Linked DNA regions of Homo sapiens: region 1 is linked to region 2. The links come from fine-mapping of genetic effects on gene expression. A gene starts in region 2. The other region holds a variant in brackets. All regions are shown on one strand. Distances are from middle to middle. Region 1 holds the start of LOC124900222 (small nucleolar RNA SNORA8). Region 2 holds the start of CCND3 (cyclin D3).

What was found. PIP is the estimated chance that this variant, and not a neighbour inherited with it, causes the effect. A credible set is the group of variants that fine-mapping cannot tell apart.
Region 1: its variant is the best candidate, but not a certain one, in a credible set for the expression of CCND3 in whole blood (INTERVAL, PIP 0.77).

What each region holds. Positions count from the first base shown.
Region 1 is chr6:41,830,275-41,835,648 of GRCh38, reverse strand. All of the region lies in intron 3 of USP49 (ubiquitin specific peptidase 49), which reads left to right. LOC124900222 (small nucleolar RNA SNORA8) reads right to left here and starts at 2,795; the gene lies at 2,656-2,795. The variant C/T (reference allele first, on the strand shown) is at 2,365.
Region 2 is chr6:41,938,473-41,943,846 of GRCh38, reverse strand. It overlaps CCND3 (cyclin D3), which reads left to right and starts at 2,039. Exons shown (of 5, transcript NM_001760.5): 1 at 2,039-2,395; 2 at 3,262-3,477. The coding sequence starts at 2,198. RefSeq lists a silencer at 1,891-2,340 and enhancers at 1,857-2,808, 2,851-2,980, 4,062-4,356, 3,937-4,752, 4,753-5,374.

The DNA of each region.
Region 1 (5,374 bases), 110 kb after region 2:
TCCGCCTCTTGGGTTCAAGTGATTCTCCTGCATCAGCCTCCCAAGTAGCTGGGACTACAGGTGCCTGCCAACATGCCTGGCTAATTTTTTGTATTTTTTTGTAGAGACGGGGTTTCACCATGTTGGCCAGGATGGTCTTGATCTCTTGACCTCGTGATCCACCCACCTCGGCCTCCCAAAGTGCTGGGATTACAGGCGTGAGCCACTGCACCCGGCCAGATTTTCCAGTTCTTAAAATAACAGTTGTGTTTACTTCCCAATTCCTTCCATTTTCCATACTTGACTAACCTAGCAAATCTAAATTGCAATTAAATTGGCTTTCATGACTGCATTTCAGAATCTTGTAATGGAAATGTTAATGGCATGAGCATTCGTTTAAGTTGGCTAAAGACTCCTTTGCATGCTAAATGTGCGTTTGTCATCCTTCCATCTCATCCACCCATCCAAAAGTCATTATTAAGTCTTTTCCCCTCTGGGATATACCAAGCAAATATAAGACACAGCACCCAGTGGTAAGCAAGCTGTGTTCTCTAACCTAATGATTGCCCCTTTGATGGTGGGTAGAGACCCAGATTGAAGACTAGTGGTGGTTTGGGCTTAGAGTGATTCATCTCCTTAAGAATCATCAGTCTTCTTTCCTTATTACCATCTCTCCACTTCTACTCTTAACATTATTTTTTTCTTTCCTATTTCTTGAATACAATCATATATTATAAAAACTGAAGATAGGCAGTACTGAGCTGGAACCTTGACTCAGCTATTTTCTATGTGAGTGTTCTTGAGAATACTTACTGTATTAGTCCATTCTCACATTGCTATAAAGAAATACCTGAGACTGGGTAATTTACAAAGAAAAGAGGTTTAATCAGCTCATGATTCTGCAGGAAGCATAGTGGCATCTGCTTCTGGGGAGGCCTCAGGAAACTACAATCATGGCGGAAGGTGAAGGGGAAGCAGGCACATCTTACATGGCTGGAGCAGGAGCAAAATAGAGAATGTTGAGGTGCTACACACTTTTAAACAACTGGATCTCGTGAGAACACACTATCACAAGAACAGCTTCAAGAGGATGGTGCCAAATCATTCATGAGAAATTGCCCCCTTGATCCAGTCACCTCCCACCAGGCCCCACCTCCAACACTGGGGATTACAATTCAACATGAGATTTGGTGGGGACACAGATCCAAACCATATCATTTACCCTCTCTGATATTCAAGATCCTCATATATAAAATCGGGATAATAGTGTCTGGGCATTTTAGGACTAGAGAAGATATGAAAAATACCTGATACTTGATGTTCTTTACTAATTTTTATTGCTGTTATTATTGTATAATCATTGTTTCCATTTTCTCAACAGCATGAGAGACTTTTTAGATAGTGCTCAGTGCTCGATGTTATGATAGAGTGAGGTAAAGTATGGGTATCATAGGAATGGAATTGGTAGTTATTAACTAGAGAATCATAGGTCAGACATCTCAAGGACATCAGAGACCCAAGAATGCCCCATACTGCAGAAGAACTCATGAGAACTTTAAATAGGACAAATTTCCTTTAGTTGCCTACTTTGATTTCTTCCTAGTGATGGGCGTGCATGTTTCAATGTTCTTAGCTATTCAAATATGTGTACAGGTGAAAGCTTTGTTTAAAGTTTTAAACAAAGTGGACCCACTTAATATACTCAACATGTTTTCTAGTTTTGTGCTCACTTTACCAACATTGGAAGTGTTTTGCCAAAAGGGCAGAATTCAGCAACAGCTTCGTAGATAAACTGCCAAGACAGATTTGAAATCACATGCTGAATAGTGTGGACTAGGTTAATAAATAGGGTTTTCCAAATGTACTATCACCCCAAACCTCATCATTTGGCCCTTTCTAGGGTCCAGAAATCTTGCTACTACTTCTTACATTTCAGAAATCTTACACACATGCTGTGATAATCTTGTCCACCTTTGCCTTATTTTAACCTATATTTTTACCCATACCAATAAGAACTACTGAGAGAGAAGGTTTGGTATAGTTATTTTACATGGATTTATTTGCACTATTTGAATTTCAAATTAGAATCACTTTTCTAAAATCTTTCAAAAATTGTTCGAGTATGGAAGAAGTTATTGGAGTAGCGTTTCCTGTCAGTGCTTAAATACTTTATTATTATAATTCTGAAATTATTTCTACTGAGAATTAATGAGAAAACATTTACTGAGAAGCAAAAGAATAAAAGAAATATTTGATTATATTTATTCTTAGTGAGTTTTTTCTAGCTGCTATTGAAGACTATATGAATCTGAACAGTATGAGGAAACTATAGAACTACAGAAATACTGTGTCAAGGCCGGGCGTGGTGGCTCACACCTGTAATCC[C/T]AGCATTTTGGGAGGCCGAGGCGGGCGGATCATGAGGTCAGGAGATCGAGACCATCCTGGCTAACACGGTGAAACCCCATCTCTACTAAAAATACAAAAAATTCGCCGGGCATGGTGGCGGGCACCTGTAGTCCCAGCTACTCGGGAGGCTGAGGCAGGAGAATGGTGTAAACCTGGGAGGTGGAGGTTGCAGTGAGCCGGGGACGCGCCACTGCACTCCAGCCTGGGCAACAATGCGAGACTCTGTCTCAAAAAAAAAAAAAAGAAAAAAGAAAGAAAGAAAAAAAGAAATACTGTGTCAATAGAAATACCAAGTTTTAACAAGCACAAAGCCAAGAAAATCAGTGATGCTAGATACTGAATTTCTATGGCACTGATCTTTGGACACCCAGCAGGAATAAACTACTGAGTGCAGATACCATGGCAATGCAATTAAATTATTCTAGTGTTTTAAGATTTAAGACATCCAATTAGTCAATCATTTTAGTTAGTTGATATTTTTGTAATGTTGCCTAATCTTGTTTTGGCTGATTTCTACACCTAAAGCATAGTGTTTGGTATATTGTAGGCGAGTGCTCAGAAAATTTTTTTTTGACTAATTTCTAGTGATAAAGTGCTTGCCAAAAATACCCTTTCATGGACGCTGGTATCCTTGAACAACCCAGTCCTCATAATAACACCAGGTTTCTAGTTGGAAAAAAACACGTTTAAGTATGTCATATTTTTGGGAGCCATTAAAAATGGCATCCTTACCGTGCTTGTTTTTTCTCTTTGCAAGCAACACACCATGTGTGTGAGCTGTTTATTGAAAGCCAAGTCTTTTTAAACATTTGACTTTTTTGCCTGCACATACCCAATTTTGTTTATACTAGGACTTAGGCATTTGCCAGTACATACATATGTAGCTAGGAAAGCATGATAGTCTTACATAGTGCCCTGTAAAGGAGCTAGAACTGGGAGAGAATAGGTTAAATGAGCTATCATCACAGAATTTCAGAAGATAATTGTCTCTGTTCAGTTAATTTATCAAAGGGAAGCAGCTCCACCTAGAATTACAAATCAAGACTATCAGGTAACATGAGTAAAAGATGCCCAGGAAAGATTTGGGGTCAAGTTCTTAGTTCTTTATATCAAGAGCCTTGTGCAGGGGGTGAATGGTAAAAAAAAAACAGTACAGACTTTGCCTTAAGGAGTTTGGACTATGGTTAGTAAACCAGATAAAACAATTGAGGACTGTGAACAATGAGGTGTTCTTTGAGGGAGAGATTCACTGGGTAGTAGAATGGTCAGGAAAAGCCTTTAAAAAAGGACAGGACCTAAGCTGGCTTTTGAGGGTTAGTACAGAAGAGGAAGGATAGCATCTCAAGGAATTGACTGTTCTTGGGACGTCTGAAGAAATAGTGAGTAGACCAGTCCATCTGGTTGTTTGGACACAAAGAAAGGGTGGGAGATAATATGAGAAGCTTGTTTGGGGTCAGATTGTATGTGATACTTTTGAAGGTCTGTCTGAGGAACTTGGACTTTATCATACAGACAGCCCATTAAAAGCGGAGGTTATGGGTTGTTGTGGTGGTGGTTTTAATTTTAGTTTGGAGTAATGTTTAATGTGCAGTATGGATTTAGAAGCTCAAGAGAGTTAGTGGTGAAGAAAAATGATTAGTTTATTTCAAAAATGGTAGCTCTACTTTTTTTTTTTTTTTTTTTGAGATGGAGTTTTGCTCTTGTTGCCCAAGCTGGAGTGCAATGTTACGGTCTCGGCTCACTGCAACCTCTGCCTCCTGGGTTCAAGCAATTCTCCTGCTTCAGACTCCCGAGTAGCTGGGATTACAGGTGCGCACCACCACGCCCAGCTAATTTTTTGTATTTTTATTTATTTTTATTTTTATTTCTGTTTTGAGATGGAGTCTCGCTCTGTTGCCCAGGCTGGAGTGCAGCGGCACAATCTCGGCTCACTGCAACCTCCACCCCCTGGGTTCAAGCGATTCTCCTGCCTCAGCCTCCTGAGTAGCTGGGGTTACAGGTGCATGCCACCACGCCCGGCTAATTTTTGTATTTTTAGTAGAGACGGGGTTTCACCATGTTGGTTAGGCTGGTCTTAAACTCCTGACTTCGTGATCTGCCCGCCTCAGCCTCCCAAAGTGCTGGTATTACAGGCGTGAGCCACTGCGCCTGGCAATTTTTTGTATTTTTAGTAGAAACGGGGTTTCACCATGTTAGCCAGGCTGGTCTTGAACTCCTGACCTCAGGTGATCTGCCCACCTCTGCCTCCCAAAGTGCTGGGATTACAGGCATGAGTCACCAATCCCAGTCGATAGCTCTACCTTTTATAGTGACAATGCAGGTTATCTTGTGTGGAGGTTCCTATCAATCAGCCTGTACAGGTAGCACCAGTGTATAACAATCTCTTGGCCAGTCAGCACTGGTGCTTCGTGCTGCTTTCCTAAATTTTTTTTTTTTCTCTTGAGACGGAGTCTTGCTCTGTTGCCCAGGCTGGAGTGCAGTGGTGCGATCTTGGCTCACTGCAACCGCCACCTCCCAGGTTCAAGTGATTCTCTTGCTTCAGCCTCCTGAGTGGGATTACAGGTATGCACCACCATGCCCAGCTAATTTTTGTATTTTTAGTACAGATGGGGTTTCACCATGTTGGCCAGGCTGGTCTCGAACTGGTTAACCTCAGGTGATCCACTGGCTTGGCCTTCCAAAGTACTGAGATTACAGGTGTGAGCCACCACGCCTGGCCTGCTTTCCTAAATTTGAATTGGTTGCAAATCTGTTTTGTTTGCTCCATCATTGTCTGTCATTAACATACTATTTATTTATTTTCAAAAGTATAAACTTATATGGAATTTCTGTAGGGGTTAAAGTAGACACTAGGTTACCAAGGCATAATTTCCCAAGACTTGGAGACCTGTGATCACTGGGAGGATTTTTGGATCTTCATCTGAACTTAGCTATATTAAACATTGAAACAATCCTACAAAATGCCTAGATGAGACAGGTTTACAGGTAA
Region 2 (5,374 bases):
CATAAGAAATGTAAATGTCTAGTAATATGCCAAAATAGATTTATTATTACTAATAAGCCACTTTCACTCTCTAGTTGGCAGAGTTGTTTTGAAAAATAGATATGTAATGATGGTGGAAAAGATTGGTTTAACTATTCAGCAGGAAAATTTGGCAATTAGAAGTGTATCAAAAGCCTTAGAATGTTTCATAACCTTAGATTGGGAAATTCCACTTCTAGAAATTAATTCACTTCTAGAAATAATCATGAGTGTGCACAAAGATATTACCACAAAAATATTTTACAGTATTATGTCTAATAGAGAAGAACTAGAAATAATTTAAATTTCCACCAATACAGGTTTGCCAAAATACATTTTGTACATTCACCTAATGGTATATTATGTCCCTATTACAAATTATGTCCTAGAATATTTAATAGCATGGAAAAGTGTTAACAGTATTTTTTTAATGAAAAAAGCTTACAAAACAGTTTGTGATGATTCCATTTAAAATGTGTGTTTATTCATAGAACAAAGATTAGAAAAATAAACATTGATATATTAAAGGGTTATTTCATGGCAAATTGCAAATGATTATTTCCTTTTTTTGTGGCTTATTTGTATTTTTGAAGTTTTCTACAATGTAAAAGAATATTTTATGATATGAAAACTACAATACAATTTATAATATAAGAAAGAATAATTCGGCCGGGAACGGTGGCTCACGCCTGTAATCCCAGCACTTTTGGAGGCCGAGACCGGCGGATCACGAGGTCAGGGGTTCAAGACTAGCCTGGCCAACATAGTGAAACCCCATCTCTACGAAAAATACAAAAATTAGTCAGGCATGGTGGTGCGTGCCTGTAGTCCCAGCTACTCGGGAATTGCTTGAACCCGGGAGGTGGAGGTTGCAGTGAGCCCAGATCGCACCACTGCACTCCAGCTTGAGCAACAGAGTGAGACTTCGTCTCAAAAAAAAAAAAAAAAAAAAAAAAGAATAATTAACAGAAAATGGTTAGACACTTCCTTAGTGTCTCCTAAGTCAGGAGGACCCCAGTAGGGCAGGGATCCTCATGGCCTCCTCCCATTTGGAGCATTATTGGAGGTCTTTTTCGGCCTCTTCGTCAAGTGGAATCTAGCTTCCGGTAAAACTACAAAGTAACCAAAAGTTTGGGAGGTGGAAGAAATGCAACCGGTAGATCTCACAGAGTCTGTGCAAGAAACTGATTCAATGAGAATCTAGTTTCTCCGTCCACAGTTTCTCCAAACAGAAACTAAGGCCGACTTTAGGGGCTTGTCCAAACCTAGGCAAGCAACTTAACAAGGTGAGGCCATGACTCCATGGCCTTTCCGTTCTGTTATATGCTGACTTAGACTAAAGCTCTCATACTTTAAAGTGCACAGAAATCTAGTTAAAATGCAGATTCTGATTCAGGTTAGGGGTGGGCCTGAGAGTCTGCATTTCTAACCAGCTCCCAGGCGATGACCACGCACGGGACAGGTCTGGGATCACAGTTTAACTAGCAATGGTGTAGAACACAGAATCTGCAGCAAGAAGGCCAGCTTCCCAATCCTAGCTCTGCCACGGACCAACTGAATGACAGTTGCCTCGGTTTCCGAGTTTTCGTGAAGATGTAGTGAGTCATTACATCGTGAGGCTTTCGAGCAGCGTTCACTAAGAACTAGCTCTGACATTATTTATCGCATTCCTTAGAGCAAGCAGCCGGTGAAGTAGGGTTTGACGAATGAATAAGTGAATGAATGACCTTTGGAGAAAAATTGTTTCCTGGGTGACTAGAGTCCGAGAAGCAAAATGGGAGGGCCCGTGGGTGGGTAGGAGGCCCACCTCCTAGAAAGTTCTCTGCACCCGGTGGTCCAGAGGGCCTGGAGTGCCCGGAAGCCGGCCGGCTTGCGCTCAGCGGCCCAATGGGGCCGCGGGAGGGAGGGGAGAGCGCTCAGCCAACCCTTTCCGTCCGGGGCGCCGCAGCCCCGCCCCTCGGAGCGTTGCGACGTCCGAGCATTCCACGGTTGCTACATCGTCGCGAGGGGCGGGGCGCCTGTCAGGGAAGCGGCGCGCGCGCGCGGGCGGCGGGCGGGCTGGGGATCCGCCGCGCAGTGCCAGCGCCAGCGCCAGACCCGCGCCCCGCGCTCTCCGGCCCGTCGCCTGCCTTGGGACTCGCGAGCCCGCACTCCCGCCCTGCCTGTTCGCTGCCCGAGTATGGAGCTGCTGTGTTGCGAAGGCACCCGGCACGCGCCCCGGGCCGGGCCGGACCCGCGGCTGCTGGGGGACCAGCGTGTCCTGCAGAGCCTGCTCCGCCTGGAGGAGCGCTACGTACCCCGCGCCTCCTACTTCCAGTGCGTGCAGCGGGAGATCAAGCCGCACATGCGGAAGATGCTGGCTTACTGGATGCTGGAGGTACCGCCCGGACGCGTCCCCCTCCCCCACCGCTCCCGGGTCTGGACACACCGGGGCCGCCCTGTCGGGACATCCCGGTCCCCACAGCAATCTGCAGGATGCTCCGAGGCTAAGACTCCCGGGGCCTGGCCTTTCACTAGGGCACCCACGCCAGCTGCCTCCCTTGCTTTCCCGAGCCCTAATCGGCTCCTCCCGACAGTGACTGCCAGTCACTTGGCACCCTAACTGTGCCTCTCTTCGGGCCGAGCAAACGGGACCAAGGACACTCTCTCCCCTTCGGCTTCTCACAGCGTCTCCCGCTTCCCTCCGCCTCCCGGCCTTCTCCGGAGAGCGCGCCTGGAAAACCCTGGGCTCGGCCGCCCCCGCCCGGGAGCCGGTTCCTGTGTCTTTCGCGGGGTTCTGGCGGGGAAGGCGATGGGGGTGGCGCGCGCCCTGTTCCGGCCGACAGGGAAATGAAAAGTGCAGGAGGCAGCGGCAGGAGCCTCCTCCCTTCCCCTCGGGTGTGTGCAGTGGTGGCGGTGATGGGGGTGAGGTCCCAGCTCTCTGGCTACCATGGGTGACCCTTGCGTCCCACTTCCCCTCGCTGTGGGGGAGGGGAGTCTCCGTTTGGAATCCTCCGTGAGCAAGGGCTCCTTGGCTTTACCACTCCCCCGTCAAGGGGAGAGGGGAGGAGGCCGCGCAGAGGAAGTGGGGGGCGTCACCTTGGGGAGGGCGCATCCTCCTCCTTTATTGGTCCTTGTCTCTCTAAGTAGCTTACCCTCTCTGCCGTTTTTGCTCCCTATCCCACCTCACTTCAGCGCTCCCACCCCCCCGCTGCTGTGTTCCCCACGCTCCAGACCCAGCAGTGACTGTGCGCCCTCCCCCAGGTATGTGAGGAGCAGCGCTGTGAGGAGGAAGTCTTCCCCCTGGCCATGAACTACCTGGATCGCTACCTGTCTTGCGTCCCCACCCGAAAGGCGCAGTTGCAGCTCCTGGGTGCGGTCTGCATGCTGCTGGCCTCCAAGCTGCGCGAGACCACGCCCCTGACCATCGAAAAACTGTGCATCTACACCGACCACGCTGTCTCTCCCCGCCAGTTGCGGGTGCGTGTGTAACTCCCCCCACCCCCGACACGTATTGTCTCCCCACTTTCCAGGAAAAGGAAAGCTTGAGATATCAGAGGCTTTCTGCCCCCTGGAGAGGAAGCAAGGGGATCAGGACCTTTGGGAAAGGAATTGGGGTGGAACAAACGATGGGGCATTGTGGTGTGATGGTTAGTATCACTCCCGCCCAGGCTTGAGCTGCAGGCAGGCATTAAACCCCCTCCTCCTGACCTCCAGGGGATGCCACTCCTTCCTGGTCTTTCCCCCAGATAGCAACAAGTCAAATTGCATGTCTACACTCACTAGTACTTTGCCTCTGGGTTTACGCAGCCACCATGAGTTATTTATTGGCAGCAGAAGGGCATGCCTGCACACCCCCACTGGAGTAGGGGAGTGGAATGTGCTTCATGTGGGGGAGGGGGTTTTGCCTTGGTTGAGTCTTTATCCTCATGTGGACTTTGTGATAGAAAAGCCTCCCAGAGCCAATTAAAGCCAGGCCCTGATTGCTTTAAGGAAGGGCTGATGTATTTCATCCCACCTTCTTTGCTTCCTCTTATATCCCGGAAGAAACAGCTTCTTCCTAATCCTTCCTCGTCCTCATTCTGAGGAACTGGAGCAGCTGCTTTGGGCCTGGTGGAAACAGCTCCCTCTTCCCCCCTTAGCCCAAGGCCCAAGCTGAGGGACAGACAGGGAGGTGAGCTGCATCTGCTTCCGATGTGATAATGGTGCCCCCTCCCCTGGCCCGCCCTCTCTGACCAAGGTCTTTCATAACCCTGTGGGGAGCTGCTGTCACTCCTGTGGTTTGGGAAGTGGCTCCCTGGGCCTCTTGCTGGAAACTTGGGCTGGGCTCAGGCCGGGCAGGAAAGTCACCGGTTCTGTCCCGCCTCAGAAGGAGCCTGGGGAGGAGGCGGGGGAGCTGCTGGATCTGGAAGAGGTTATTTAGGACATGCAGATTGTCTCCTAGGGAGGCTGGGGGAGAGGGTGGGTGAGCTGGCACCTTCCTCCACCTTGCTCTGTGGCGGGCCAAGTCTTCTGCTGACCCTGAGAGGAGTCTCTGGGCCCCATCTCCCAGGGAGGAGGGCAGCAAGCAGGCTGCTGTGATTGGCTGGCAGGGAAGCCAGGGTACTGGGGCCCCCGACTGCTGTGAGTCGAGGAACAGGATTCCTCTTCCTGCCAAGTAGCTCAGAGATGGGAGTAGGAGGCCAGAGTTGGGAATCCAGGAGGCGCCACAGCTCTTTGTGATGAATCTGGTAGTTTTTGGCAAGTCTGAAGGTGGAGCTAGTTTCCAGGGCCAGAGAGCAAGATGTTTTTGGAGGGGTTGGGGCTGGAAGGTAGAAGGGGAACTTCCTTTTTGTGAAAAGATGGAGGTGGTTTGTGTGCCCACGTATGAGGGTTTTTCAGTACAGGCAAAAAGTACTCTTCCCTCTGCCTGAGCTGGGGGTGGAGTGCCCAAAAGACTTCCTAGAAGGTCAAGGTTGGAAGGGACCTCTGAGAACTCCAGTTGGTCCAAATCCGTGTGCAGCAGAGGAGGCTGAGGCCCAAGGAAGGAGGGCAAGGTCCTGCCTCAGCATCGCACTGAGCAGATGAGTGTAGAACCTGGGTCTTCTAGCTAGACCAGGTTGCCTTAAAAGTCAGGAATGTGATGGCCGCTGCCACCTACTGAAGCTAAGCACTCCCAGGGGTGTGTTCTCCACCAGTTAACACTGGGATTCTCTGGTTGCCTGGATATGGGGAAAGGTGGCCACTTTCCCTCAAACACAACCCCTTGCCTCCCCATAGGGAGAGTCCCACTCCCAGTTGCCTTCCAGATGCTTCCTTAGAAGCTGAGTCCCTTCTGTTTACTGCTGAGTTAGGAGTTGGCTCCTGGGACATGCACTAGGGGTAGCGTTGTAATTTA